7 linked regions of the Homo sapiens genome follow. The protein of the gene in region 4 purifies or fractionates together with the protein of the main gene of each other region. This does not show direct contact. Each region holds a gene or a part of one and is shown on either strand. Other genes may lie near its edges. The genes, in order: ACSF3, TOP3A, NDRG2, TMEM70, CANT1, CHDH and HPN.

Region 1 (3,500 bases), on a different chromosome or scaffold from region 4:
TGAGACCATCAGCCTACGCGGCACAACCAAAGGCAGGTTTAGCCCCTTGGGACGTGGCTCTCGCGTGCAAAGGTGGCAGGTTTAGCCCCTCAGGAGGCGGCCCTTGCTTGCAAAAGTGGCAGCTCCTTCACGAGTGCAGGAGCCCCAGGCCGTGGGTACAGCACCACTGTGCGACACCCGGGACCAACGCTGCAGTCTGCGCTACGGCGTGACTTTGTTTTTTGAAAACGATCTGTTGGGTGTATTTTAGAAGGAAGCAGGTCCAACAGCTAATGAGGGTAAACAATGTGCTTAGGGTCCGCGGTGTCCCCTGCAAAGTTCCTGCGCTGTTCACAACCACGCTCAAGAACAGCAGTGACCGTGCAGCTGCCGACCACGGAGCTGATCACGGGTGAACAGCCACGGCGCTGCAGGCTGCGGCCAGGCACATCCGGGGACTACAGCCGGCTCAGCTTGCAGGCTCTGCAGCAGAACGCGGACATGGGTGAATGGCCGCGGCACCCAAGGGGTGGGGCCGGGCACACCCAAGGGGCTCAGAACCACCCGCAGAACTGCAGCCATCTTGGCCCACAGGGTCAGCTCAGGCTTGGCAGGAGAACACGGGCCCTGAGAACTCCGAGTCCCCGCGCTCTCACACAGCATTTCCCGCAGCCTCACGGGCAGTAGGGAAGGCGCTTTTGTTTGCGGTCTGAGCGGAGTGGTCCCTGCTGCTGCCCCTGCTTTACGAGGAGGCACCACTGACAGGACCCCCGCTGGGAGATCCAGATGGCCGAGGTCTCATTGCCTCTGTCACCCCAGAAATCACCTGATCCTCTCCTTCACTGACCTCGTTCTTGCCCTTGGTTCCTTAGATTTGGTAAAACGTTGTGCTCACCCTGCTCAGCTTGGGGCCTGCCCAGCCCCAGGGTATCCCAGCAGTAGCAGCAGCAAAACCATGGGCTCCGGTGGCCTCACAGAAAAGGGGCAAGGGAACGGCAAAGAGAGCGAAGCGGTTCAGACATGTGCCTTGGACAACCCGGAATTCTCTCCAGGAACAAAGGTGCCGCTTCCCTGTGCACTTCCTGGGGACTGGGAGGAGCGCGCGGCAGCCACAGACACACACATCCCACTGGAAACTGGATGGCAGTGGAGCCTTCAGTTCCTGCAGTGCACCCTCCACGCCACCCCTCCCTCTCACAAAAAGAAAAAATACCCCACCCACGACTCTGCTGGAGGTGCGGGCCTGTGATGCGTGTGAAGACTCACTGAGCCACACGTGTGCGTTTCCAGTTAGTGAACCACACCTCAACAGCCACGAGGGAAAAGAAACGTTCCCACGCCTGCAGGTTCATGGGAGAGTGCAGAGCAAACACGCCCCTGGGTGGCCCAAAAGACCAGCTTGTCCTGGGAGGGAGGGGTTTATCCAGGGAGCTGGGAGGGGAGGAGCGGGGCTGAGAGGAAAAGCAGCAGAACGTGCCCCAGGCAGGAGGCCTCACAGGGCTGCCCACGAAGGCAGAGAGACTGCATAGGAGAGGCAGGCGCCGTGGGACATGTGGGCAGATGAAGCAGGAGCAAGCGGGTCAGCTCACTGTCCTCACCCTTGTCCTTCAGACGCCATGACAGAGAGAGAGAGAGACGGACAGGAGAGAGAGCAGACAGACAGACGGAGACAAAGACAGATGGAGAGATAGAGACAGATGGAGAGACAGGAGAGATAGAGAAAGAGAAGACGGAGAGACAGATGAAGAGCGATGGAGAGAGACAGAGAGAAGACAGAGATGGAGAGTCTGACAAGAGAGACAGAGAAGACAGATAGATGGAGAGATGGAGAGAGAGAGACAAAGAGAGACAGAGAGAGATAGAGAGACAGAGTGTGACAGAGAGAGCGATACAGAATCCAGGCAGCTATCGACGTGGAAGAGATTACAGATATACATACAGACGGGTAGAGAGAGAGAGAGACAGTTAGAGAGGTAGAGACGGAGACGGGTAGAGAGAGAGGGAACATTGAAAGGAAATGGAAAGCACTGCTTCCCAGAACTTAGTAGGAGTGATTTATTAGAAATAAGTCGTATCTGTTGATCTTTAAGACTTTCTGAACGAGAAAGTGGGCTCTTTTCACTTACCTAATTTTTTCTTCACAAACTGCACGCAAGAAATCCTGGGCGTGCGGCTGGGTAAAATGCCTGTCGTAGTACTCCATCAGCTTGGTGTATATTGTAGGCACTGCCATAAAGACATTGATCCGCGGCGTTTCAGAACTTAAGAACTTTTCCCAAACCTACGAAGGAAAGGAAGCACTCGGTAGGAAGATGAGCAGGCACTGGGGCCCGTGGCGGAGGCTCCTGGCTCCAGGCACAGCGTTCTCATGGTTCACATTCAAGAGTCTGCAGCGCCTCCCTTCTAAAAGGGGTGCCTCAAACTCTGACCCCTTCCCACAGAAGCCATGTTGCGCGGGACAGCTGCGTCTGGCCTGTGAGGGGAAGAGCAATCGTGAACAGAGCTAGAAAAGGGCTTCGGGATCTGTGGCCTGGAGAGACGTGAGTGGTCAGGCTCTTCCAGCTACACAGAGAGGGCGGATGTACACCTTGGGGAAGCTGGCAGGAGGGCCTGGCTGCCCGCAGACCTGAAGTCAGCATGCTTCCCAGTATGGACAGGCATGCAGTGACTAGCGAACGGGTGAAGTCTTTTATTTAAAAGAGTCATGTGAATTTTATATTTTACTCCATAATAAACATTTCTTGCTTACATATAAATACGTTTTAAGTTCCTCACTCGTTAGCGGGTTCTCGCGTCGCCCATAAAGCTTCAGGAAGAGCTGGTGAGCCGCATTCCTTCCATGGCCCTCTCTACCCGCGGTGTTCCACACGGAGCACCGAAGGGTGTGGCGGAGGGAGGAGGGCACTCTTCGTGCTGTGGGGTCAGCACCTAAGGGAGGCCCAGGACACACAGGACAGATCTCGCCCACACGGCGTTGAAACTGGGGTCGACGGATGCCGATGCCACAGTCCAGCCCCAGCCCATCTCATCTCCTCACTGGACTGCAGTGACGAGTGCCTCACCGCAGCTGCCTGGCAGAGAAAGGCAGGAATCTCCGGGGAAGAAATAATATCATTCTTTCAAAGACAAAGACTGGAACCCTTCAAAGTCACAAAGCATGTAAGGACACAAAGATGTGATCCCCAACTGAAGGGAAGAAGTCTCAGGAAATCCAAACGTCCGAATCACCAGACAAGGCCCTTCAAATCACTGCAATAAGCAGATTAAGGAATTTCAAAGAAAAGATGAACAACGTGGGGAAGATGGAGAATTGCAAAGAGAAGTGGAACTGCAAAAAATCATAAAACTGAAAAACACAAGATCCAAAATGAATTCATTCAATAGACCTAATAACAAACAAGACGCAGCAGAAAAGAGGAAAAAAGTCAGACACAGTCAACGGGGGTGATCTAGGCTGACCCACAGACGGGAAAGCAAAGACACAGGCGACCAGAGTGCGGGAGACAGCAGCACCGCGGAGC
Region 2 (3,500 bases), on a different chromosome or scaffold from region 4:
TGTTTGATTTGTTTTTGTTGTTGTTGAAGAAGTCTCACTCTGTTGCCCAAGCTGGACTGCAGTGGGGCAATCTCGGCTCATTGCAACCTCCACCTTCCGGGTTCAAGCAGTTCTCCTGCCTCAGCCTCCCAGGTAGCTGGGACTACAGGTACGCACCACCATGCCTGGCTAATTTTTGTATTTTTTTTTTTTTTTTTTAGCAGAGAAAGGGGTTTCACTGTGTTGGCCAGGCTGGTCTTGAACTCCTGACCTTGTGATCTACCCGCCTCGGCCTCCCAAAGTGCTGGGATTACAGGCGTGAGCCACCGTGCCTGACCCTTGTTTGGGGATTTTATGGAGGATTTATTACTTAGGCATGATTGACAAATCACTGGCCACGTGTGATCAACTCAACCTCCAGCCCCTCTGCTCTTCCTGAGGTAGGGGTGGGACTCAAAGTCCCAACCTTCTAATCACAGGGTTGGTTCCCTGACAACCAGACCGATCCCAAGGCTACCCAGGAGCCCTTGGCCACTAGTCATCTCATTTGTATACAACAGACACAGCACTTAAAAAATTCCAAGGGTATCAGAAAATGAAGTCCAAATATATATATCTTATTATAAATCATAATATCACAGGTAGAAAACACATCATTTCTAACAAAATACACACATGCTGCTTGCTAAATATCCACCTCTAAATGCTCCAGAAAACAAATGGATCACACTCCAGCACTTGGGTTTACTGATTTAAAAGACTTTGTTGCCTAACTCAAGATAATTAATGTGTCATGTAATTAAAGCAGAAAAAAAAAAGATAATTAAAATCAAGAGAATGGTATTTCTAAAGCCAATAGTTCAGAATAACTGAAGGAGACTGTTCCGATTACTGTTTCTATACTGACAAAGCTCTATGGAGAGTTGTAAAAGAACCCAGAGAAGAAAGTCCAAAGAAAAGGGGTATGTGGAAAACCTCCAGGCCAGGAGGCCACTGGTGAGGATGAATCTGGCAGGGTTATAAACTCTGACTGGCCCAGATGCGGTGGCTCACGCCTGTAATCCCCACACTTTGGGAGGCTGAGGTGGGAAGATCTCTTGAGGCCAGGAGTTCAAGACCAGCCTGGGCAACATAGTGAGACCCCTCTGTATTTCTTTTAAGGACTTACTTCTTTGCTTTAGCCACCGCTTCAATGAAAACCTGCTTGTATTTCTGCACTTGCTGCCTTAGAACCACAAATTTGTCCTTTTTGCCATCACAGATCAGCTTCAGATCAGCTTCCAGTTCAGCCCGGAGGTCAGGCTTAGACATTTCATAGCCCATGGAATCATAACCTGCAGGGAGAGAGTCGAGCTCAGTGAGGGCCCACCTGAGACCCTCAGGGACTTGGGCGACACCACCCACTACCCACTGCAAGCTCTGTCCTCCCTTACCTTCCACAAGTCCCATGCCCAGGTGCCCAGGGAGGAACCGCTTGTCTGGGGTGAGGCCCACGTACATCCGGGCTTTGATGGTCTCGATGTGCTCCGCATGAGTGGCATCCGTACCTGGAAGCCACTTGCTGGTTACTCTGAGGTAATACAGACAACAGCTCCACCCGGGTGGCGCATGGGCACCTTGCTCACCCCGGAATCCCTCCTTTGCCTGGACAGCCTATGCAGGTAAGATGCCTTCATTTCATTCCCATATAGCTCATTCAAGAAATCACAATGGCAACCTCAACTCTCTTGTTCCCTCACATCCCATTACTCAGGAAAGCTGTCAATTCCAGCTTCAAAGCTCTTTTTAAAAATTCTCTTCCCCATGTGTCCAAGCCATACTTGCAGCTTGTGTCCCTATTTCTAGTCTCTTCCTCTACCCTAACCATTCTTTAAGCTGTGGCCAAAGGGACCTTTCAAAATGTAGCTCTGCCATGAAGGAAATGCAAATTAAAACTGCAGTGAAGGCTGGGAGCAGTGGCTTATGCCTGTAATCCCAGCATTTTGGGAGGCCAAGGTGGGCAGATCATCTGAGGTCAGGAGTTCGAGACCAGCCTGGCCAACATGCTGAAACCCTGTCTCTATCAAAAATACAAAAATTAGCAGGGTGTGGCGGCACGCACCTGTAGTCCCAGCTGCTCAGGAGGCTGAGGCAGGAGAATCACTTGAACCCAGGAGACAGAGGCTGCAACGAGCTGAGATGGCACCGTTGCACTCCAGCCTGGGTGATGGAGTGAGACTCTCTTTAAAAAAAAAAAGAAAAAAAAAAGGGCTGGGCGTGGTGGCTCACGCCTGTAATCCCAGCAATTTGGGAAGCCGAAGCGGGCAGATCACGAGGTCAGGAGATCAAGACCATCCTGGCTAACACGGTGAAACCCCGTCTCTACTAAAAATACAAAAAAAAAAAAAAAAAAATTAGCCGGGTGTGGTGGCGGGCACCTGTAGTCCCAGCTACTCAGGAGGCTGACACAGAAGAATGGCATGAACCTGGGAGGCGGAGCCTGCAGTGAGCGGAGATCGAGCCACTGCATTCCAGCCTGGGCAACAGAGCGAGACTCCACCTCAACAATAACAACAAAAAAACAACCAAAAAAACCAGTGAAATAGCAGTTCAGACCTACTGGCAAAATCAAAAAGAGAGATAATACTAAGTGTTAGTAAGGATGTGGATAAACTGGAATCCTAGTGCCTTGCTGGTGGAAATGAAAAACGGTACAGCCACTTCAGAAAAGTTTGGTGGTTCCTAAAAATGTTAAATGTAGAGTTACCAAGTAAACCAGCAATCCCACTCCTAAGTCTACCCAAGAGAAATGAAAACACATATCCACACAAAACCTTGTACAAAACTGTTCACAGCAGGATTATTTATAATAGCCAAAGAGTAGAAACAACTCAAGTGTCCATCAACTGCAACCTCTGCCTTCCGGGTTCAAGTGATTCTCTTGCCTCAGCCTCCCGAGTAGCTGGGATTACAGGCGCCTGCCACCAAGCCCAGCTAATTTTTTCATTTTTAGTAGAGAAAGTGTTTCACCATGTTGGTGAAGCTGGTCTCGAACTCCTGACCTCAAGTGATTGGCCCACCTTGGCCTCCCAAAGTGCTGGGATTACAGGTGTGAGCCACTGTGCCTGGCTCTTTATAGGAAATAACTAAAGTAGGCAAATCTGGCCAGGTGCAGTGGCTCACTCCTGTAATCCCAACACTTTGGGAGGTTGAGGTAGGAGGACAGTTTGAGGGTGCAAGTTCAAGACCAGACTAGGCAACATAGCAAGACCCTGTCCCTACATAAAACAAAAAAGTCTGGCTGGGCATGGTGGCTCAGGCCTATAATCCCAGCACTTTGGGAGACCGAGGCGGGTGGATCATTTGAGGTCAGGAATTCGAGACCAGCTTAGCTAACAGTGAAACCCCATCTCTACTAAAAATACAAAAATTAGCCAGTGATGCGCACCTGTAGTCCCAGCTACTCAGGAGGCTGAGGCAGGAGAATCTCTTGAACCTGGGAGGCGGAGGTTGCAGTGAGCTGAAATCGTGCCACTACACTC
Region 3 (4,257 bases), on a different chromosome or scaffold from region 4:
GGTGGTGGTGGGAGGGTGGTTCCCAGGCAGGAGGGGGCAGGGAAACTTGGGGGTCTTGGGGGGGCAGTCGGTGCTGGTGTTGCAGTTGGCAGCTCAAGTTCCATTGGCCATTGTTCCTGACTGGCCTGGCGCCCAGCCCCCGAAATGGCAACTCAGGAACCAGTCTGAAGGGGGTTGGGGTGGATATGATCCTGGGATTGGGGGAGCTACAAGGGGGGCAGGTGGGGAGAAATTCAGTCAGGTTTCCTTTTGCCTAAACAACTTCGAATTCCCTTAAGCCACATTTTTAATCAACTAACTCATTCCAGGGAGCCTTCCTCCGAGGGGCACAAGGAGAGCTCATTCCAGGGTGTGTGTGTGTGTGTGCGTGTGCGTGTGTGTGTAAAGTCTACAGTGGCAAACCCACTCGGGCACCGAGAGGGACGCGGCAGACCCTGAGACCATCCCCCGGGCATTGCGATTCAGCGGGCCTGAGCTGGTCTCCTATTCTGGGCCGGACTGGGAGGGGTTAGCGGCGAAGCCACAGGGTCTCTTGGGTCCCAGCCCAGGACACTGCGTCCTCCCCAAGCCCCTACTCCACCCCCGCAGGGTTAACTCCGCCCCTGCGCCTGTTTACCCAGGAGTCAGAGCCTCTGGGGGTCCCCGGCCCCTCCCCCGCGCCCCTTGAGGCATTGACCCCAGAGTCCCTGTTGGCCATCCTCTCCCCACCCCCCGCCTGCCCGCGATCGCCCTCTATTTATAGCGGCCCCCCGCATTCCCCGCCCCCACCTCCCCGCCTTGTTGTCCAACTTCTCCCGGAGCAGCCGGAGAGCAGGCGTCGGGACGCAGCAAAGAGAGGAGAGGTACCAGGACTCTGGGCACGAGGGAGTCGGAACTCCTGCGCCCTCGACGTTCCCCCGTGCCCCCTTTCGGCGCCAGCACACCTGCCCCTGCCAGCCGGCGAGACCCCCGCCTCCTCAGCGGCGGTCCCGCCCACCTCCTCCTTTCTTAATCTAGTTCTCTGTGTTCGGGCGGGGGGAGTCGAACTCGTGGGGTGTCAGTATCCCGGGTTCGTCTCCCCACTACCGGTTCCCACCACTGAGTCTGGGGGCGAAGGAAGGAGCCAGAGTGCAATTGCAGATCCAGGTCGTGGATGGGGCGGTGCTGAGGGCAGCCGAGGGATCCCTCTCAGGGCTGAGGGATCCCCGCACTCCCCACACCGCCCCAATGCGGGGAGGGGGTGGTGGAATGTTTTGGTGAGCCGAGCAGAGCCTGGAAGCGTCCAGCCGCCCGCCCCTCGCCCCCCGGCCCCAGCACAACCCTTTCCTGAGCGGCAGTCTGGGCGGGGTGAAAGGGGGGGCGTGTTTACTGGGGGTCTGGGGCGGGTCTGCGGGGAGCCTAGCGCCCGTGGGCGGGCTGGGGCGGGCCGGGGGCGGGTCTGCGGGAAGCCCGAGCCGGGGCGGGCCCGAGTCAAAGGCAAGTGAAGGTGGAAGCGGCCGCGGCGGCAGCAGGTAGGGGGAGGGGCAGGCGAGGGGCCGTAGGGCCTGGAAGGCGCCAGCCGGGCCGGCGGGCGGTGTGATTGATCCGCGTCCCCTGGAGCTGGAGGCTCGGGGGAAAGGGCCAGCACGGAGCGGGCGCTCGGTTGCTGCGCACAAAGGCTGAGGCTCCAAGAGCTGCAGGGCGTGTTTGGGGTGCGCGCGAGGTTGTGTGCAAGGTCCGGGGCGCTTGGCACCGGCCACGCAAGGGTGTCAGTCTCCACGCGGACGGGCTGCGTAGGGACTCGTAGGGACGGGTTCCGGGTGCTGGGCCCGGCCGGTCTCCTCTGTCCTACCCATCCCTTCCCGATGGCGCTTGCCTTCGCGGGCCGTCGGGGGAGAACGGGAGAAGATTGTGGGACCGCTCTCCTCTCCCTTTCTCCACTCGTGGGACCTACACGGAGACTGAGTAGAGGAGAGAAGCGACGGCACCAATCTTTGTGTTTGTTTTTAAATTGTGGAGGGAAACAGCCATGCTCTGCTACCCTCCTCTTACTGGAGAGCTGTCAAAAATTTTGGGGATCCCCTATTCCCCCGCGTTTAGTCCCCCTGCAGATAGAAAATTGAGGCCAAATGTAGTAACTAACTGGGGCAAGGTCACACTGGGAGTGGCAGAGCCGGGATTCGAATCCGGAGGTTCTGACAGGGCCACCCTCTTACCTCCACATCAGCACTTCCTTCTCTCCTCCGCGCAGCCTGAACTGATGCCCTTGTAGCCTATATTGATTCCGGCTCGAGCCTAGAGAGGACGTGTTCTCTGGACTTAGGGGTAGACAGACACTGGGGAGGGTTAGTGACCCGAGGAGGTTGATGACCCTGGGAGTCTGGGTCTTGGCTGAGGCTTTCCGTCCCTGAAAGACCCCAGGTCTGTCTCCCATGTCATTCACCTCGTTGCTGTGTTTTCTCAGACCCCAGAGTCAGAAGGAGTGAGAACCCTGACCCCTAATCCCACTGCATCCAGCCAATAGGAGCCCAGTAAGTGACCCCACCCCGCAGGCTGCAGGCTCCTTCCTGTGCAGGTCTGTCCAGGTGCTCTGCTCCTCACCCACTAATGTTGAACTTGCGGAGTTTATTCAGAGTTGGGAGGAAGGGTCTTGGGAGGAAGGGAGGCATTGGGTTGGTTGGACAGATGTCCCTTTTATGTTGTTTTCCCCACCTCCCCCATTGGTCATGTTGCTTTGGTCATTTTTAGCCCCCTTTGAGCTGCCGACTTTGGGGCTTTAATTGAAGGTCATGGTCAATTGTGAACTCTCACAGTCCCGTCTTTTGGTACCCTGTCCTTTAGAATACTCAGTCACTGAGCTACAAGTTTCACTCCCTACCTGAGAGTGTGGGGTGGCCCCTAAATATAGCCCGAGAAATCTGAGCTACACTTCTGCCCCACCCTGGTATTTTGGTCCAGGGCAGAGGAGGGAGGGGTCTGGAGGTGTGGTGTTGAGGGTGGCAGTGGGGATGGTGAGTATCAAGAGAAGGGCTGTCCTGATTCCTCTTCCAAAGCTTCCACCGATCAGCCTGGAAACGGAGCTGGGGGCAGGAAAGGCCCTCTGTGTGTTCTAGAGTAGTCTTCAACCCCTGGGTCCCTCTGTTCCCTGCATCTTCCTGTGCTGAGAGAGGAAGCCTGGTGTTTGAGGCGATGTGGGGATGTAGAGACAACTTCCCAGTCTCATTTCCTCATCCTGCCAGGCCACCATGGCGGAGCTGCAGGAGGTGCAGATCACAGAGGAGAAGCCACTGTTGCCAGGACAGACGCCTGAGGCGGCCAAGGTTATTAGAGACCGTTTGACTCCCATGCCCAAATTCCAGACCTCTAAGCATCCCCCTTGCCTTCTAACTTCCCAAGCGTACTGATCTTATTCTAACTCACACCACTGCTTCACCACTACCCTAGTCTCTCTCCCCATACACTATAATTGGGAGTCAGGCCCTTGTCTCGTCACTACACTAACCTTCATCCTTTCCGTGTCTCTCTTTGTCAATCTCTTTCTGTCTTTGGTCATTTGTTGGTCTGTCTTTACTTGCCTCTCTTTGTCTGTTTGTCTCTCCATCTGGGACGCCACATGGTCATGTGTTTCTGTGTGAATCCGTGTGTGTCTCTCCAGGAGGCTGAGTTAGCTGCCCGAATCCTCCTGGACCAGGGACAGGTAACAGTGTGGGGGCAGTCCCAAGGTGGGAGGAGGGGCTGTCCTCTTCCCCAGTAGAAGGATGGCCTCTGCTTGGCCCTCTCTTCTCTCTTTGCTTTCTTTCCTTCTATTCTAGTCCTTTCCCTTCCCTATCTCTCCCCTCTCCTTCCTTCCCCTCCTCTTCTCTCTCTAATCTTCATTATTCTTTCTTATCCTCAAACTCATCTTCCGGTATCATGTTTTCCTCAATTCTTGCTGATCCTGTTTTTAATTCTTTGTTCCCTTTTCCCTCTTGCCCACCCACTCCCAGCTCCCTGACCTTGGTGTTGCTCCTTTTCTGGCCTCGTCTCCTCTGAGCCTAGCTCTTGGTGCCCTGTTTTCCTGCAGACTCACTCTGTGGAGACACCATACGGCTCTGTCACTTTCACTGTCTATGGCACCCCCAAACCCAAACGCCCAGCGATCCTTACCTACCACGATGTGGGACTCAACTGTAAGGACCTTCATTCATCTCCCACTCCTGTCTGGGAAGAGGCTGTGGGGGAAGGGTAGAAATGAAACCCAGAGGGAGGGGAGGGGTCAGTGTGGGAAGGAGAAGTTCTCTCCTGGTCTGACTGTGGCAT
Region 4 (4,268 bases):
AGTGGTGCAATCAGGGCTCACTGCAGCCTCAACCTCTTGGGCTCAAGTGATCCTTCCACCTCAGCCTCCCAAGTAGCTGGGACTACAGGCAGGTGCCACCATGCCCAGCTAATTTAAAAATTTTTTGTAGAGACAGGGTCTCACTTTGTTGCCCAGGCTGGTCTCAAACTCCTGGAATCAAGTGATCCTCTCACCTGGGCCTCCACGTAGTATTGGAATTGCAGGCGTGAGCTCCCGCCCCTGGCCACACATTATTTTAGACTATGAATTTGTTCCTCTCCGGTGCAAATAACATGTCAAATCAAAAACATGTATAGTTCTGCAGTGGTAAACAAAAGTGTGTTTCTATTACTAAGATGCTCATCCTTCAAGACTGAGCTAAATGTGAAGCCAGTCTGAAGACATTCTGAGGCAAAATTAATCATGTTCTTCTTTGTACTTCTGTGGCATTTGTTTGTTCTTTTTTTTGAGACACGGTGTCACTTTGTGGTCCAGGCTGGAGTGCAGTAGTGTGGTCTTGGCTCACTGAAGCCTCGACTTTGGGCTCAAGCAATCCTACCATGTCAGCCTCCTGGGTAGCTGGGACCACAGGCACACACTTACCATGTGTGGCTTATTTTTGTTTTAGGTTTTTTTTTTTTTTTTTTTTTTGTAGAGACGGGGTCTCCCTGTATTGCTCAGGCTGGTCTCAAACTCCTGGCCTCAAGAGATCTTCCTGCCTAAACCTCCCAAAGCGCTGGGATTACAGGTGTAAGCCACCACGGCCAGCCACATTTTGTATATTGCGGTGTCTCAATTGTATTACATTATATTCTAGCCAATTTTCAGGTATTTTCCTCCACTGTTTAAGCACTGTGGATTCCCAGTTTAATCTAGTATTTTGTATCCTCTGCTCCTAGCTCAGTCCTGGCAATAGATTCAGTACCTCTTTAACAAGTAATGAATCAATGTGTATATGGATGTGAATGATTTCCGAAGACAAATCTGGTAACACCTATCAATATTACATGAACAATTCCATTTATTTTCCTCCAACCCGATGATTCAATTAAGTTATCACTCATTTTTGTTCAAATCGTATATTCTTTCTTCTGTGCCAACAGGCTAGAATCATTTTCCGCAAAGGAAACAGTTTTTAGTGATGTCGTCCACGAGAAAAAAAAATATTTAACCCTGGCTTCTGGGCATTGTCATTCTCGTACAGCCCTCTGCCCCTCCACACTGTTATAAAGAAGGTAAAATTCTAGGAAGGAGGAGCCGCTGAGCCAAGGACAGAGCGGCGGGCTCCCAGCTCAGCTGGCGGATAACGCGCGCGGCCGGGAAGGCGGCAGGCGGGCGGCAGGCGGGCGGCAGGCGGGCGGCAGGCGGGCGGCAGGCGGGCGGCAGGCGGGCGGCAGGCGGGCGGCAGATTCTGCGCACGCGCAGGCAGCCCAGCTGCCAGTCAGGCGTCCCGGGCTGGGCATGCGCCACTTGTGCGGCAGTCGGGTGGGAAGCCGTGTCTCGCAGTCGTGGACTCGTGCAGCTGGGGCGTCCGCAGCCGCTCGTCACCCGCGTGATGCTGTTTCTGGCGTTGGGCAGCCCGTGGGCGGTCGAACTGCCTCTCTGCGGAAGGAGGACTGCATTGTGTGCGGCCGCCGCGCTCCGAGGTCCCCGGGCCTCTGTCTCCCGGGCGTCCTCCAGCAGCGGGCCTTCGGGGCCGGTAGCCGGCTGGAGTACGGGGCCTTCGGGAGCCGCGCGCCTTCTCCGGCGTCCGGGTCGAGCGCAGGTAGGGCGTCCGAGGTCTGGTGTCCCAAGTGAGGCGGGGAGGGCGGGCGTCGTGTCGGGCCTGGGGAGCCCCAGCGGCTCTTCGCGACCTCTCCCAGGTGTCCGTGGCTGGAGCGCGGGAGGAGCCCCCTCTGCGGGGCTTGCAGAAGTAGCAGGCCGAGGGCCCCGGGGTCCTCAGCCTCCGCGAGTCCAGGAGAACGGCTGGAAAGTGCTTACTTTTATGGTAGTTCCAAATCCAGAGGGTTTGTGGTGACAACTATATGTAGTTCCTTTTCTGCCCTTGAGTAGAAGCTTAGAAGTGTTAATTTGCAAAAAATTGGATGCAGCACCTGGAAATAGAACCGAAAGAGCCAGGTTAACCTGACTTTGAGCTTGTTCTACTTTTATGAGGTGGCTGTACTTTTAAGAATTACTTTGGTCCCTGGGAAAAGGGGGATGCAGATGTTAATTCTTTTATTTTGATCTGAATAAATTGTCTTCTAATTCTACTCTGTAAAATATCAGGATTGGCAAACCTGGTTAAAACTTGGAAGAAATGCTTAAAATGGAAATTGGAATCTAATTACATTTCAGCATTGAGGAATTAGGCATGCCTTTTACATTTTGAAGTGTATACACTGTGAAACTCATTTTCAGATGTATGGGGAACGCTTCTGTTCCCTTGAAATTTGATGTAGGATTTCAAGTAAATTTTATTTCTTTTTTTTTGGAGGTGAAGTCTCGCTCTGTCACCCTGGTTGGAGTGCAGTGACGTGATCTTGGCTCACTGCAACCTCCGCCTTCCGGGTTCAAGCGATTCTCCTGCCTCAGCCTCCCCAGTAGTTGGGATTACAGGCGCGCTCCACCACACCCCGGCTGATTTTTTTTTTGTATTTTTAGTAGAGACGGGGTTTCACCGTGTTGGCCAGGCTCGTCTTAAACTCCTGACCTCAAATCATCCTCCTGCCTCGGCCTGTCAAAGGGTTGGGATTACAGGCGTGAGCCGCTGTGCCCAGCCAAATTTTATTTCTTGTCAAGAAATAAGAGGACCAGGGGATACACGGTATTTACAAGGTCTTTAGAGAAAGATTTGATCTCTTTAATACTATCATATAAATATTTTAGCAGTATTTGTAAAAGGCCTGGACTTTAAATATAATGTGAGTTTGCGGAGTATTTTACTTAAATTATTTTAGTAAAATTAAATTTTATTTCTTAGAGATGGGGTCTTGCCATGTTGCCCAGGCTGGCCTTAAACTCCTGGGCTCAAGTGATCCACCTCAGCCTCCCCAGTAGCTGGGGCTATAGACGTGTTCCATTACACCAGCTAAATGTATTTATTTTTTGAAAAGGTGTTGCATTTAAATAGAATGGAAATGATGTCGTCATTAACAGTGGAGTAGAAGAAACTGTTACTATTTTTACTTGTTCAAGGTCACACTAGACCTAGAAACCTGAGAGCTGGGATGCTAAGCTAACAAACTCCAGCTCTGCAGTTTTCTACTTGTGACTAGAATTAAGGCAAGCCATTCTGTCAGCCAATTTATTTCTTTAACTCTGTAGATTATTTGGGAGAATTCCTTATGTCACCTCATGTGACAAGTTCTTTTCATTACAATTTTATTTTATTTTTTTGAGACGGAGTCGTGCTCTGTTGCCCAGGTTGGAGTACAGTGGTGTGATCTCGGACCACTGCAATCTCCGCCTCCCAGGTTCAAGCGATTCTTCTGCCTCAGCCTCCGGAGTAGCTGGATTACAGGCGCCAGACACCATGCCCGGCTAATTGTTTGCATTTTTAGTAGAGACGGGGTTTCACCATGTTGGCCAGGCTGGTCTTGAACTCCTGACCTCAAGTGATCCGCCCCCCTCGGCCTCCCAAAGTGCTGGGATTACAGGCATGAGCCACTGCACCTGCATTACAATTTTAAAAATAAACTTAAGCTGGGCATGGTGGCTCATGCCTGTAATCCCAGCACTTTGGGAGGCCAAGGTGGCAGATCACTTGAGGTCAAGAGTTCAAGACCAGTCTGGCCAACATGGTGAAACCCCGTCTCTAATAAAAATACAGAAATTAGCCGGGTGTGGTGGTGGGCACCTGTAATCCCAGCTACTCAGGAGACTGAGGCAGGAGAATTGCTTGAACCCGGGAAGCAGAGGTTGCAATGGTGAGCTGAGATCGCACCACTGCCCTCCAGTCTGGGAGACAGAGCAAGACTCTGTCTCAAAAAAAAAAACTTAAAAAAATTTAAGAAGGTTAGTTGACCATAATGATCCCTGTTTCAATAGATCCCTGTTTATTGGGAAGGATATGTTCGATTCTTAAATACGCCATCTGACAAATCAGAAGATGGAAGGCTAATTTATACTGGCAATATGGCCCGAGCAGTGTTTGGTAAGTAATTGGAGGTGGGTGTACTTACTTTGTTTTTTTCTCTTTTAATTGTAAAAATATCCTTACCATATCTTACTTGTTGTTATGGCATCCCTTAATTACAAGACGTAAGGAAAATTAGATTTTCATTTTT
Region 5 (3,500 bases), on a different chromosome or scaffold from region 4:
GAGCGGGCTGGGTAACTACAGGACTGTGCTCTGTGTGATAAGATTTGGTGATTCCACTTTATAAGAAAGGAAACTGCTTTAATTAAAGCAGGTTAATAATTAAAACTTCAAAGTACTGCACAGCCACAGAATTTTCTTGAAGGGAGAAAGCGGTCACTGGCCATATGATGCGGAGATGGTTTTATCTGAGGCCTGAGAACCAACAGATGTGCCTGCGCCCTGGCCTGTGCAGCTGTGGGCAGATGTGTCCCCAGGGGCCTGCCCTCACTCGTGACCATGCAATACCCTGCAACATAAACATTTTCTTTTCCAAGGATCTGCAGGGGTGGACATGATGCTCCAGGCACAGAGTAGGAAGAAAAGGGGGTGACCTGGGGTTCCCAGCAAACAGGTCCACCTCATGCTCACTGCGTTCTCAGGGTGAGGCATAGGGCCTGACATATGGTAGGAGCTCTAGGGATATTCACTGAACAAAAGAACATAGGAAAGAAAAGAAACGAGGTCGGATGGAAGAAACGACCCAGCCAGTTAGGCAGGCCTTGAGTCAATGCCTGAAGTGACCGAAATCACCACCAGATGGCAGCATGGAAAGCAGTTCAGACCGCGGCCTCCGTGGGGCCCGGGGGTCCAGTGCCCGCACCACTATGGGGCCCGGGACTGGGCTCCCTGTCCAGACCTCCAACCCAGGCACAGTTCCAAAAAGAACAAAACAAAACAAAAGTGCACTCCTCTTGTTTTTATAAAAGCTGAGTCCTGATGGCCTTGCTCAGTGTTTCCGTTTTGAGTTAAATGAACTCGATGCCTTCGTATTTCACGCTTCCGATCTTGGTCTCCGGCAACAGGAAGCGCCCGTCCAGCGTGAAGGCCATGATGTAGGAGGCGACTCTGCCGCTGTCCTCCTCGGATTTGAGGGCCACAATGATCTGGTCGTCGGTGTTGGGGATGAACTTGAAGGACGAGAAGCCGTGAGTGGGGACCACCGCCCCGACGTGGCTCACAGCGATGTCGCCGAAGTCAGGGGAGGCGCTCAGCAGCAGGTTGGCGCCCTTGCGCTCGTCGTCCTTCTCGCTGTAGCGCTCCTGGCTGGCGCGGCGCGGCAGGAAGAACCAGCGCTGCAGCGTGTCACTCCAGCAGGCAGACTCATGGATGAGGTAGCCTGGGAACCGGGTGACCGCGGGTCAGACACGCATGCGGCCTGGTGTGCCCAGCCCCACACCATCAGGCCGTGCGCAGTAGCAGGCAAGGGGCTGCGACCACCAGGGCCCACCAGCTCACAGCAACCCGCCCCTCCCTGCTCTCCAGGATTCTGGAAGGTTCTGTGTTCTCGGTTATCCCATGCAGGGAACCTGCAGCACCCGCTCCCTTGAAGCCTCCTCCCGTTCCACCGAGAGCTGCCTGTGAGCTGCATCAGGGATTTGGGCTCATCGGAGCCTCCTCGGGGCTGATCCAGAGGAACCCAAGGAAAGGGAACAAACCCCCATTGGATGTGGGGAGGCATCGGCGGGGAGGCTGCCTTGAGGCTGCAAGGAAGAGGAGACAGCGTCTGGGGCCCCAGGCACAGACTCAGTCACTTCCTCCTGAACCTCAGGCACCTAAGGCCTACTCCATCCTGACTAGGGGGAGGCCAAAGTGCTGCTGGCCCTATGTTGGTGTGGAACACCACGGCCCAGCGCCAGGGGTAGGGACAGGGCCTGACCCACCAGTGCAGACAACCGGGCCACAGGCTGGGATGCTAGGAGGCCAGCTGCCAGGGCGAGTGGGGCAGGAAAGAGAAAACAGCTCATTTGCCGCCAGAATCCACTGGCCTGAGGGAAGCCACCATCAGAGGCAACCAAAATCACTAAAATCAAGCAAGAAACGGCCTTGGAGGCTGGGTGTGGTGGCTCGCGCCCGTAATGCCAGCACTTTGGGAGGCCGAGGCAGGTGGATCACCAGATCACCCGAAGTCAGGAGTTCGAGACCATCCTGGGCAACATGGTGAAACCCTGTCTCCACTAAAAATACAATTAGCTGGGCGTGGTGGTGCACACCTGTAGTCCCAGCTACTGGGGAGGCTGAGGCAGAAAAATCGTTTGAACCCAGGAGGTGGAGGTTGCAGTGAGCTGAGATCGTGCCACTGCACTCTAACCGGGGTGACAGAGCAAGACTATGTCTAAAATAAAAAACGGTTTTGGAGGCAAATGCAGGAGGAAGCAGGTTCCCAGCGACTGGGCTGTGGAAGCCACACTGTGGGCTGGGGCAGGCGTCTCTTACCTGGCGGCTGGATGCCGGCAGCAGCCCGCAGGGCGTTGTAGTTGGACACCCAGTTCTCGTGGTCCACGCTGCCCTTGTAGCCCACCACCTTCACCCACTCCGGGTTCTCGTTCACCACATCACCCGTAGTGGTCGTCCACTCCTTGCCCAGGCCGCCCACGTACAGACGCTCGTCCTTCACTGCCAGCCATTCGGCCTTGAAGCCTGGCCAAGCAGAGTGTCCTTAGGCCCCGCACCCAGCTCCCGCCGCACCCCTGCACCTGGCTCCCACCCGGCCCCGCACCTGTCCTTAGACCCCGCACCTGACTCCCGCCCGGCTCCACACCTGCCTCCCCTCCGGCCCGCACCTGGCTCCCGCCCAGGGCCGGCCGGCTGCCCTCCCCTCAGCTCCTGAAGGTTCAGTGACCACTCTCAAGTCTCCTCTGATCCCCAACTCCCCGCTCCTCAAGCTGTAACCCCAACCTTAGGATTATCCTTAAAGGCTAGAAAAGCTGAAAAGTGACAGCACTCTGAAGGGGCACGTGTGTCCCAGGGGAGTGCGGGTGCTGCCCTCGGCCACACCTGAGGTCTCACCGAGCATCACTCTAACTCCAGTGGCCGGAGAGGGGCTTGGTGCTGGGGCTCCCAGTCTTCCTTTCAATGGATTTGTTCAGAAGCTGTTTTTGCTTTTTTTAAACTGATTTATTTAAAATAAGCCTAACTTTGAAGGCTGCCACAGTTCAGGCTGTGTGGGAGCCTGTGTTCTACCGTGTATTCTTATCATCCCTACACCCTGGTGTTCTAACTTCTGTTTGCTTTCCCCAAATTTTGCCAGCTTCTTGCCCCTGAGAGCTGGAGCTGTGCCCTCTGAACTGCCCGAGACTGTAGTAGCTTCTCTGCAGGGCCCTGGAGGGACCTGCGGTCTCCTGGTCTGCTTGTGCGATGAGACATTCTCCATGCCAGGGTCTTCCATCCCTCCCGGATGACCTGAGTACAGCCCAACCCCAGAGCTCCCTGTACCCCGCTTTCCTCCCTATCCAAGGGAAGGACAGAACTACACTAGGGTTGCCTAAAACCCTGACAAGTGCGAGGCAGGAAGTAGGCGACCAACGCCTCAGTTGATACCTCAGGTGAGGTCCGTCCCCTGCCCAGCCCTGGGCAAACACTGAAGATTTTATCACCGGGTGTGGGGAGGGCCTGGCCGGCCATGAACTGTGTGGGCCGTTGTTTAGTGCAGTTCCTCCTTGACCTCAGAAAGCCTGCGGTGG
Region 6 (3,500 bases), on a different chromosome or scaffold from region 4:
CACAGGTGGGTGAAGTACCTGTTGACAAGTAGTTGGGCTGGATCACAGGGTGGTCTTGGGGATTGGCACTTCTCAGTTTGAGCCAGCCCACACTCGTGCCCCGCATGGGCCCCACATGTACCTAGAAGAACACAGAGGAAGCAGTGACGGTCCCTCCATAGACATCCACAGTGACCTCTGTCAACCCTGGTTTACCTGTAGGGTGGGCCTCTGCTTCCAGAATCAGTGGGGAACAGATGCATGTTAGCATTTGCCCGCATGGTACCCACCTCCACGAGTGATTACAGACCACCTCAAGGAATCACTCTTTCATCCTGGCCTCATACTCCATGGCTCAAAGCTTTCAGAGGTGGTGATCCCAGAGCCAAGTCAGCCCCTCTGTTTGTCCCATTTCTGGTGCTCGGTACCTAGCCTGCATGAAACAGTCATACCATTGGCATGCACCACGCAGACTGACACGCTGGGCAGCTGGAAGGCAGGGGACAGGCCTCTGTGTCCCCCACTCTGCAGCCATATGGCACCAGGGAGAATGCTGCCTTGGAAGATGGGAGCATCTTCCTTCCTGGTGGGAAGGAGACATCCTGGGAAGCCGAGGCTCTTCCACCTGCTCACCTGGTAAGCCTCCTGCTGGGTGGGGACCCGCCCGTGGTCAATCACTTGGGATGGCAGGAAATGGAACTGGATGTCCGGGTGGGGGACCCCAGGCTGGCTGCGGATGAACCCACCTGTTTCCAGATGGGCAGTGGCTCCCTCCCCTGAGAAGCAGAAGAGGATGAGGCAGAAGAGCCAGTCAGGCCGTGGCAGGTGGGCCGGCTGCTCCTGGTTTCCCTCCTTTCTCCTGGCCGCTCCTCTTCCTTTTCCCGGACTCCACTCTAGTGCCTGGACCCAAGTCCTGTCCACATCTGTTCACCCCTCACAGGGGGCTCACCCAGCACCACACCATAAAATGTCAGCTATTTGCCAAAAGGATGGCATCAGCTCTGCTCTCTACCAGGGCCAATTCTGCCACTGCCCATGCCACCTGCCTTACCGGCTCTTCCCACTACCTAGCACAGCACACAGCACATACTAGGTGTGTGAGAAATACAGACTGAGTGGATGGGTAGGATTTTAAACTACCATTTCCTGGCCCAGGCACAGCTAGAAATCAAATGGAAAAGGTTGAAAGATGAATGCTGATTCTGCAGTCTAGCCCCAAAGTCTCCTCTCTCCACCTTTTCTCCTGGCTCCTTGGACCTCACCTGCTGTCCAGCACAAGGCCATCCCTGCTCATCCGTAAGGAGGAGCAGCCCCTAAGCCCCGAGGAGTCTCACCTCCAGCAGGCCCTGGGCCAAGCTCCTTGGCATGTGCTATTGTTTCTGGTCCTCGCTTCAACCTGTCAGGTTGAAACTGTGCATCCCCATTTTGAAGATGGAAAAACTGAGGCTCAGGGCTAAGGTAAATGGCATAGTTCCGCATCAAACCCAGTGGCCAGAACCCCTGTTCAGCTCCTCAGGAAGGAGGTCTCAATGCTTATAGGCAGTCTCCTCCCAGGTTACTGGTAAGCGTGCTCACCTGTGAATTTCCAGAGCCACTCCAGACCAATGCAGACCTTCCGCAGGGGCTTCTGTGCTGAATGGAGGGTGATAGGGCGGGTGCATGCCTGCTGAATGTAGATCTCCAGGTGGTCTTGCAGGTTCTGGCCAACCCCTGATACGGGAAGGAGTGGTTTAGAAAATGGCTACCAAGGGGGCTCAGCTGCTTCTCAATATCCCCCCGGTTTTGAAAAATTCTTTCCTATTCCCTTATCTTCTGGACCAGCTCCTGCTCAGTTCCCTGGTCTCAGCTTAAAGGCTGCCTCCCAGAGACACTATGTGTGCACTCCTGGCCAAGTCTGGCCTGCCTCGGATGCTGCCAAGGCCACCTGTCCTTGTCACTCACTCCTACGGCAGCCTCTGGGTGCCCCTTGTCAGCCCTGCTCAGCAGCCCCCTCTGTGAGGGCAGGGCCTACGCCTTCAGCAGGCACTGCTTGGTGAGCGGTTGCTGGATGGTGATGGCCAGAGGGGCAGACAGCAGCCCCACCCTCACGCCAGCGTGGGGAAGGAGGAAGCAGCCCTGTCGTGCTACACCGTCCTTGCATGAATTCATCCAAGCCTACTGGGACACTGGGCAGGTCAACATCATGAAGCAGCACTTCCCCGGGCCCCTCATGATGAAGCCTAAAGGCACAAAGGCCTAGCCCTCCCGGAGTGGGGTTATCAAGGAGGGCAAGAGACAGAGCCCGACCCTCAAGAGCATCAGAGACAGTTTATAAAACAAAGTTTACATCTTAACATGAAGAGCAGGCTCTGGAGCACGGAGCTGACCTCATTCATGCTCAGGGCAGCCAGCGAGTCCTGTGGATGGAAGGACGAGGCCTGGACCCCTCTCGCCATAGAGCTGCCCTGGTGACACGCCCATGCCCGACCCAGTGGGGCTTCAGGGCAGATACTCCCTGCTGCAGGGTGCCCTTCTCCAAATGAAATAGGGCAGCCGGAGGAGGGAGAAGGAAAACAATGCAAGACTCGGGGCCCAGGGATGACAGTGTCCAGTGAGGCCTGGGAAACCTTCGGGCTCTCGGGGACAATGTGATAGTTCCAAGGATCACTGACTGCCACCACCTCCCCACTTCATGCTAATAAGATACATACACTAAGCCTTTTGTTGAGCAGAGACAGCCTCTGGGGAGCAGTAAAGAAGGGGACTCACCAGGTAGGTGGCACACCACAGGGATGCCCAGTTTCTTGAGGTCATCAGCATTCCCGATGCCAGAGAGCATGAGCAGCTGTGGAGAGTTGATGGCACCTCCACTCAGAATCACCTCCTTGCTGGCATAAGCCTGGAAGAGGTCCAGCCAGGTCACTCCCTGAAAAGCCAGCTGTTCTCCTGACTCACAGACCAGCGCCCTACTCTAGCCAGCACCATGAGAACACAGCCTTGGGATGTAGAATCCTGTGGCACACCCGGGACAGGCCCCAGAGCTAAGGAGAGGAAACTCACTGAGTCACTACTTGAAAGCAACCAGCAGGTGCAACTACAGCTGGACAGTAGTGACAGCCTTAGAAACAGGAGGGGAGGGCTTACACGAGATAAATGAAAGCAGGCATTCAAGTGGGTGGTTTAGAGAGAGCAAGCGGTGAACCAGATCTACACATGAAGCTGCAAAACAATCAGACCCCCTGCCAACAACACAGAAATAGAGTACAATCACATTTATGGGTTTTAAAACCTCTAGTGTAAACCTATAGCTTTAAACCTATAGCTTTCTGTGACATCGGTGCCTTGAAATGGTGTGGAAGGTACTGGGGGAGAGCTCTGAATTAGGCATGGCACACAGGGGCACTGACACCATAGGCCCTTTCTCGGTGGCAGGACTAGGGGCTTCTTCACCTCCACCAGCCCACTGCCATCAGCTACTCGCCCCTCCCCCCGCCATCACAGGGATGAGCACGTGGGTCTGGGGGTGAGGGCGTGACTCCTGC
Region 7 (3,500 bases), on a different chromosome or scaffold from region 4:
CAATCTCCCATCCCCACCTCCCACCCTGCCACCATCAATCAACTTTCTATCTCTACCGATGTGCCTATTCTAGACATTTCTTTTCTTTCTTTCCTTTTCTTTTCTTCTTTTCTTCCTTCCTTCCTTTCTTTTCTTTCTCTTTCTTTCTTTCTTCTTTTTTTAACAGACAAGGTTTTGCTCTGTTACCCAGGCTGGAGTACAGTGGCACAATCCTAGCCCACTGCAGCCTCAAACTCCTGGGCTCAAGTGATCCTCCTGCCTTAGCCTCCTGAGTAACTGGAACTACAGGTATCCGTCACCACACCTAGCTCATTTTTTTAAGTGATGGGGTCTTGCTATGTTGCCCAGGCTGGTCTTAAACTCCTGAGCACAAACAATCCTCCCATCTCAGCTGCCCAGAGTGCCAGGATTACAGGCGTGAGCCACCGTGCCCAGCCTTGTACATTTCATACAAGTGGCATCCTACAGTATGTGGCCTTTGCGGCTGGCTTGTCTCATTCAGCACTGTTCTCAAGTTTCATCCTTGTGGTAGCATGAATCAGTACCTCATTCATTTCTATGGTCCAATATTCTCCCGTTGTGTGGATATACCACATTTTTTTTGTTATTTATTTATTTATTTTCAAGATGACAGAGCCTTGCTCTGTCAGCCAGGCTGGAGTGCAGTGGTGTGATCTCGGCTCACTGCAATCTCCACCTCCCGGGTTCAAGAGATTCTCCTGCCTCATCCTCCCGAGTAGCTGGGATTACAGGCGTGTGCCACCACGCCAGGCTAATTTTTGTATTTTTAGTAGAGATGGAGTTTCACCATGTTGGCCAGGCTAATTTTTGTATTTTTAGTAGAGATGGAGTTTCACCATGTTGGCCAGGCTAATTTTTGTATTTTTAGTAGAGATGGAGTTTCACCATGTTGGCCAGGCTGGTTTCAAACTCCTGACCTCGTGATCCACCCACCTCGGCCTCCCAAAGTGCTGGGATTACAGGCATGAGCCACCGCGCCCGGTCAATATACCACATTTTCTTTATGCATTTGTCCGATGAAACAGTCTTGGGCTGTTTCCATCTTTGGGCTATTATGAATAATGCTGCTATGAACACTGATGTACGAGTTTTGGTGCAGACACAGTTTCCATTTGTCTTAGGTATATACCTCCTGTCCTGGGAGTGGAAGTGTTGGGTCCAATGGTAACTTTATGTATACTTCTTGGGGAAATGCTGGCAAATTTTCCAAATTGGCTGCACTGATCATTGATAGTTAAGGCCCACTTTGTGCTCCCTCGAGATCATTCCCCTTATTGCCAAGGATGCCTGAGCCATAAGTTGATTGCCTTGTGCCCCTGGTCCCCTCCTCTGTCCTCCTGGCCTCGGGTCCTCAAGCCCCATGGCTCAGCCCTTAGACTTACCTGTGAGGGGCAGGGGACTGGAGAGGTGGACCAGGGCAATATCGTTGCTGTTCTCCTCGCTGTTGGGGTCCCGAAAGGGAAGATAGCCCCCGTGGTAGACCACAGCCTGCACCCCCAGCTGCAGACCGTGGGGAGAGGCCTGGGCCACGGCACCGGCAAACACTCGCCATCGGGACAGGACCCGGTTCCGCCTACCAGGGAAAGGGGTGGAGGGTGGCCACCTGCCTGGGCACAATCCGCCCTCCTCCCCACTGTCTCTCCGCTCCTCTGCCTCCCCATCATCAGCGCCATTGGGGGGCACTCACTCCGGGAAGCAGTGGGCGGCTGTCAGCACCCAGTCCCCGGAGAGCAGGGATCCCCCACAGAGGTGTGCTCCATCATAGCGAAGGCTGACTTGCCACGGCCACCGGCCCAAGCTGGTGTCCCGGCCTCCCACGATGCGGTCCACGGGCAGCTTCCTGCGGCCACAGTCTGTGGGACAAGGGTCAGCAGGGGGCGGCGACAGGGGACTGGAGCCCAGGTCCCCAGAGCCCAGGCTTGGCCCTGCCCTAGGGGGTCTGAAAGTACATGGCCCCATCCTGGGGAGCTTGAGGGGACGTGGCCTCCCCAAGGGCCTAAAGGAGAGGGTTCTGAGTTTTAGGATCTCACCTTGGCAGATGGCGGCCAAGAAACGGCCTCTGGGGCAATCACTGGGAGAGATGGGATTGGAGACACAGAAAGAAAGGAAATAGAGACCAGTTAAGACAGGTGGAAGGAAAACGGGGAGAGGGAGTGCCTTGGGGGTCTGAGGTGTTGCCCCACCTGCCCGCTGCCCTCCTCACCACACGGAGATGACCTCCAGCAGCCTCTGGGTGTGGGGCAGCCTCCCCTCGTCCACACAGAAGAAGCCCGACGTGCCATTGGCGCCCGCCGTTCGCACGTCCAGCTCGGAGTGGGTCAGTGCCCTGGGCGGGGCAGGGGTTAGGCCTGCTCCCCAGCCCCTCCCGGCTCCCACCCCTCCGAGGGCCCCCAGTACCTGAGGAAGCCCATCTCCTCGCAGCTGAGTCCGGCTACCCTGGCGTTGGAGCGCGAGGAGCACAGCAGCCGCCACGTCCCTTCCGTCTTGTCAAAGACCATGAGCCGAGCGTCCGCAGAGCTGACCTGCACTGCAGGGCGACAGGGCCCGGGGCCGCCTGGGTCCCACAGCCAGGCTCCCCACATGCTTCCCCAGCCGGAGCCCCTCCTGGCCTGTGCTCCAGCCATGTGGTGTAGACGTGAACCCCAGCCCATCGGAGGGTTGCAGCCCCCACATCTGCGATTGCATCTGGAATCATGACTCAAGGACTTTTTTTTTTTAAAGACAGGGTCTCGCTCTGTTGCCCAGGCTGGAGTGTAGTGGTGTGATCTTGGCTCACTGTAGCCTTGACCTCCCAGACTCAAGAAATCCTCCTACCTCAACCTCCTGAGTAGCTAGGACCACAGGCGTGCACCACCACACCTGACTAATTTTTTTGTTTGTTTGTTTTGTTTTGTTTTGTTTTGTAGAGACGGGTCTTGCTATGTTGCCCAGGCTGGTCTTGAACTCCTAGGCTCAAGCAATCTTCCTGCCTCTGCCTCCTAAAATGCTGGGATTACAGGTGGGATTACAGAGCACCATGGCACTCTGCCAGACTCAAGGACTCAGGTCGGACCAATCAACAGCAGCCTTGAGGCTGTGGCCGGCCCCTCCGCGAACCAGGGGAACTTCACTCTCCATTAGAAGTCCTAAGTTGGCTGCTCAGGAGCTGCAGGTCTGGAAGGTGACTTGGACATTCGGGAAGAAAAAAAACCATTTAACCAAGTTCCCAAGAGAATCCAGCACTTGAGGCTGGATCTGTTAAGGGTCATGTTCACCCTCTTGAGGGAAAAAGTGAGCTAACGTGGAGGAGAGTCAAGAGATTTCTGATAACATTTTATTTTATTATTGTATTTTTTGTGGAGAAACCGAAGCTCTTTATTAGTATGTTTGTCATTTGTCTTTTTCCATTTGTCTTTGGTCACACCCTTAACTCATATAAAAAGACCTCTCACTTTATACGTACACAGACAGCATATGGAAAATAGAAGAACAAATTTGTT

Evidence for each region.
Region 1: the proteins of TMEM70 (region 4) and ACSF3 purify together in Homo sapiens (affinity purification with mass spectrometry; 2 studies listed by BioGRID and IntAct, with this or other methods). This does not show direct contact.
Region 2: the proteins of TMEM70 (region 4) and TOP3A purify together in Homo sapiens (affinity purification with mass spectrometry; 2 studies listed by BioGRID and IntAct, with this or other methods). This does not show direct contact.
Region 3: the proteins of TMEM70 (region 4) and NDRG2 purify together in Homo sapiens (co-immunoprecipitation; one large-scale study listed by IntAct). This does not show direct contact.
Region 5: the proteins of TMEM70 (region 4) and CANT1 purify together in Homo sapiens (co-immunoprecipitation; one large-scale study listed by IntAct). This does not show direct contact.
Region 6: the proteins of TMEM70 (region 4) and CHDH purify together in Homo sapiens (affinity purification with mass spectrometry; 2 studies listed by BioGRID and IntAct, with this or other methods). This does not show direct contact.
Region 7: the proteins of TMEM70 (region 4) and HPN purify together in Homo sapiens (co-immunoprecipitation; one large-scale study listed by IntAct). This does not show direct contact.

The regions. Positions count from the first base shown.
Region 1 is NC_000016.10:89,110,852-89,114,351, reverse strand, and holds part of ACSF3 (malonate--CoA ligase ACSF3, mitochondrial isoform 1 precursor), read right to left. Parts: intron 2,261-3,500; coding exon 2,106-2,260; intron 14-2,105; coding exon 1-13. UniProt on the Homo sapiens protein: Catalyzes the initial reaction in intramitochondrial fatty acid synthesis, by activating malonate and methylmalonate, but not acetate, into their respective CoA thioester. May have some preference toward very-long-chain substrates.
Region 2 is NC_000017.11:18,283,995-18,287,494, forward strand, and holds part of TOP3A (DNA topoisomerase 3-alpha), read right to left. Parts: intron 1,527-3,500; coding exon 1,413-1,526; intron 1,314-1,412; coding exon 1,148-1,313; intron 1-1,147. UniProt on the Homo sapiens protein: Releases the supercoiling and torsional tension of DNA introduced during the DNA replication and transcription by transiently cleaving and rejoining one strand of the DNA duplex.
Region 3 is NC_000014.9:21,022,262-21,026,518, reverse strand, and holds the start of NDRG2 (protein NDRG2), read left to right. Parts: upstream 1-1,457; 5' UTR 1,458-2,489; exon of another isoform or gene 2,490-2,543; intron 2,544-3,011; exon of another isoform or gene 3,012-3,197; coding exon of another isoform or gene 3,198-3,203; coding exon 3,204-3,278; intron 3,279-3,613; coding exon 3,614-3,655; intron 3,656-4,021; coding exon 4,022-4,127; intron 4,128-4,257. UniProt on the Homo sapiens protein: Contributes to the regulation of the Wnt signaling pathway. Down-regulates CTNNB1-mediated transcriptional activation of target genes, such as CCND1, and may thereby act as tumor suppressor. May be involved in dendritic cell and neuron differentiation.
Region 4 is NC_000008.11:73,974,727-73,978,994, forward strand, and holds the start of TMEM70 (transmembrane protein 70, mitochondrial), read left to right. Parts: upstream 1-1,468; 5' UTR 1,469-1,555; coding exon 1,556-1,765; intron 1,766-4,029; coding exon 4,030-4,135; coding exon of another isoform or gene 4,136-4,143; exon of another isoform or gene 4,144-4,149; intron 4,150-4,268. UniProt on the Homo sapiens protein: Scaffold protein that participates in the c-ring assembly of mitochondrial ATP synthase (F(1)F(0) ATP synthase or complex V) by facilitating the membrane insertion and oligomer formation of the subunit c/ATP5MC1 through its interaction.
Region 5 is NC_000017.11:78,992,765-78,996,264, forward strand, and holds part of CANT1 (soluble calcium-activated nucleotidase 1), read right to left. Parts: intron 2,458-3,500; coding exon 2,254-2,457; intron 1,157-2,253; coding exon 786-1,156; 3' UTR 1-785.
Region 6 is NC_000003.12:53,818,920-53,822,419, forward strand, and holds part of CHDH (choline dehydrogenase, mitochondrial), read right to left. Parts: intron 2,858-3,500; coding exon 2,728-2,857; intron 1,690-2,727; coding exon 1,555-1,689; intron 756-1,554; coding exon 613-755; intron 122-612; coding exon 19-121; intron 1-18.
Region 7 is NC_000019.10:35,058,721-35,062,220, reverse strand, and holds part of HPN (serine protease hepsin precursor), read right to left. Parts: intron 3,163-3,500; exon of another isoform or gene 2,549-3,162; coding exon 2,419-2,548; intron 2,348-2,418; coding exon 2,225-2,347; intron 2,093-2,224; coding exon 2,052-2,092; intron 1,875-2,051; coding exon 1,709-1,874; intron 1,595-1,708; coding exon 1,404-1,594; intron 1-1,403. UniProt on the Homo sapiens protein: Serine protease that cleaves extracellular substrates, and contributes to the proteolytic processing of growth factors, such as HGF and MST1/HGFL. Plays a role in cell growth and maintenance of cell morphology.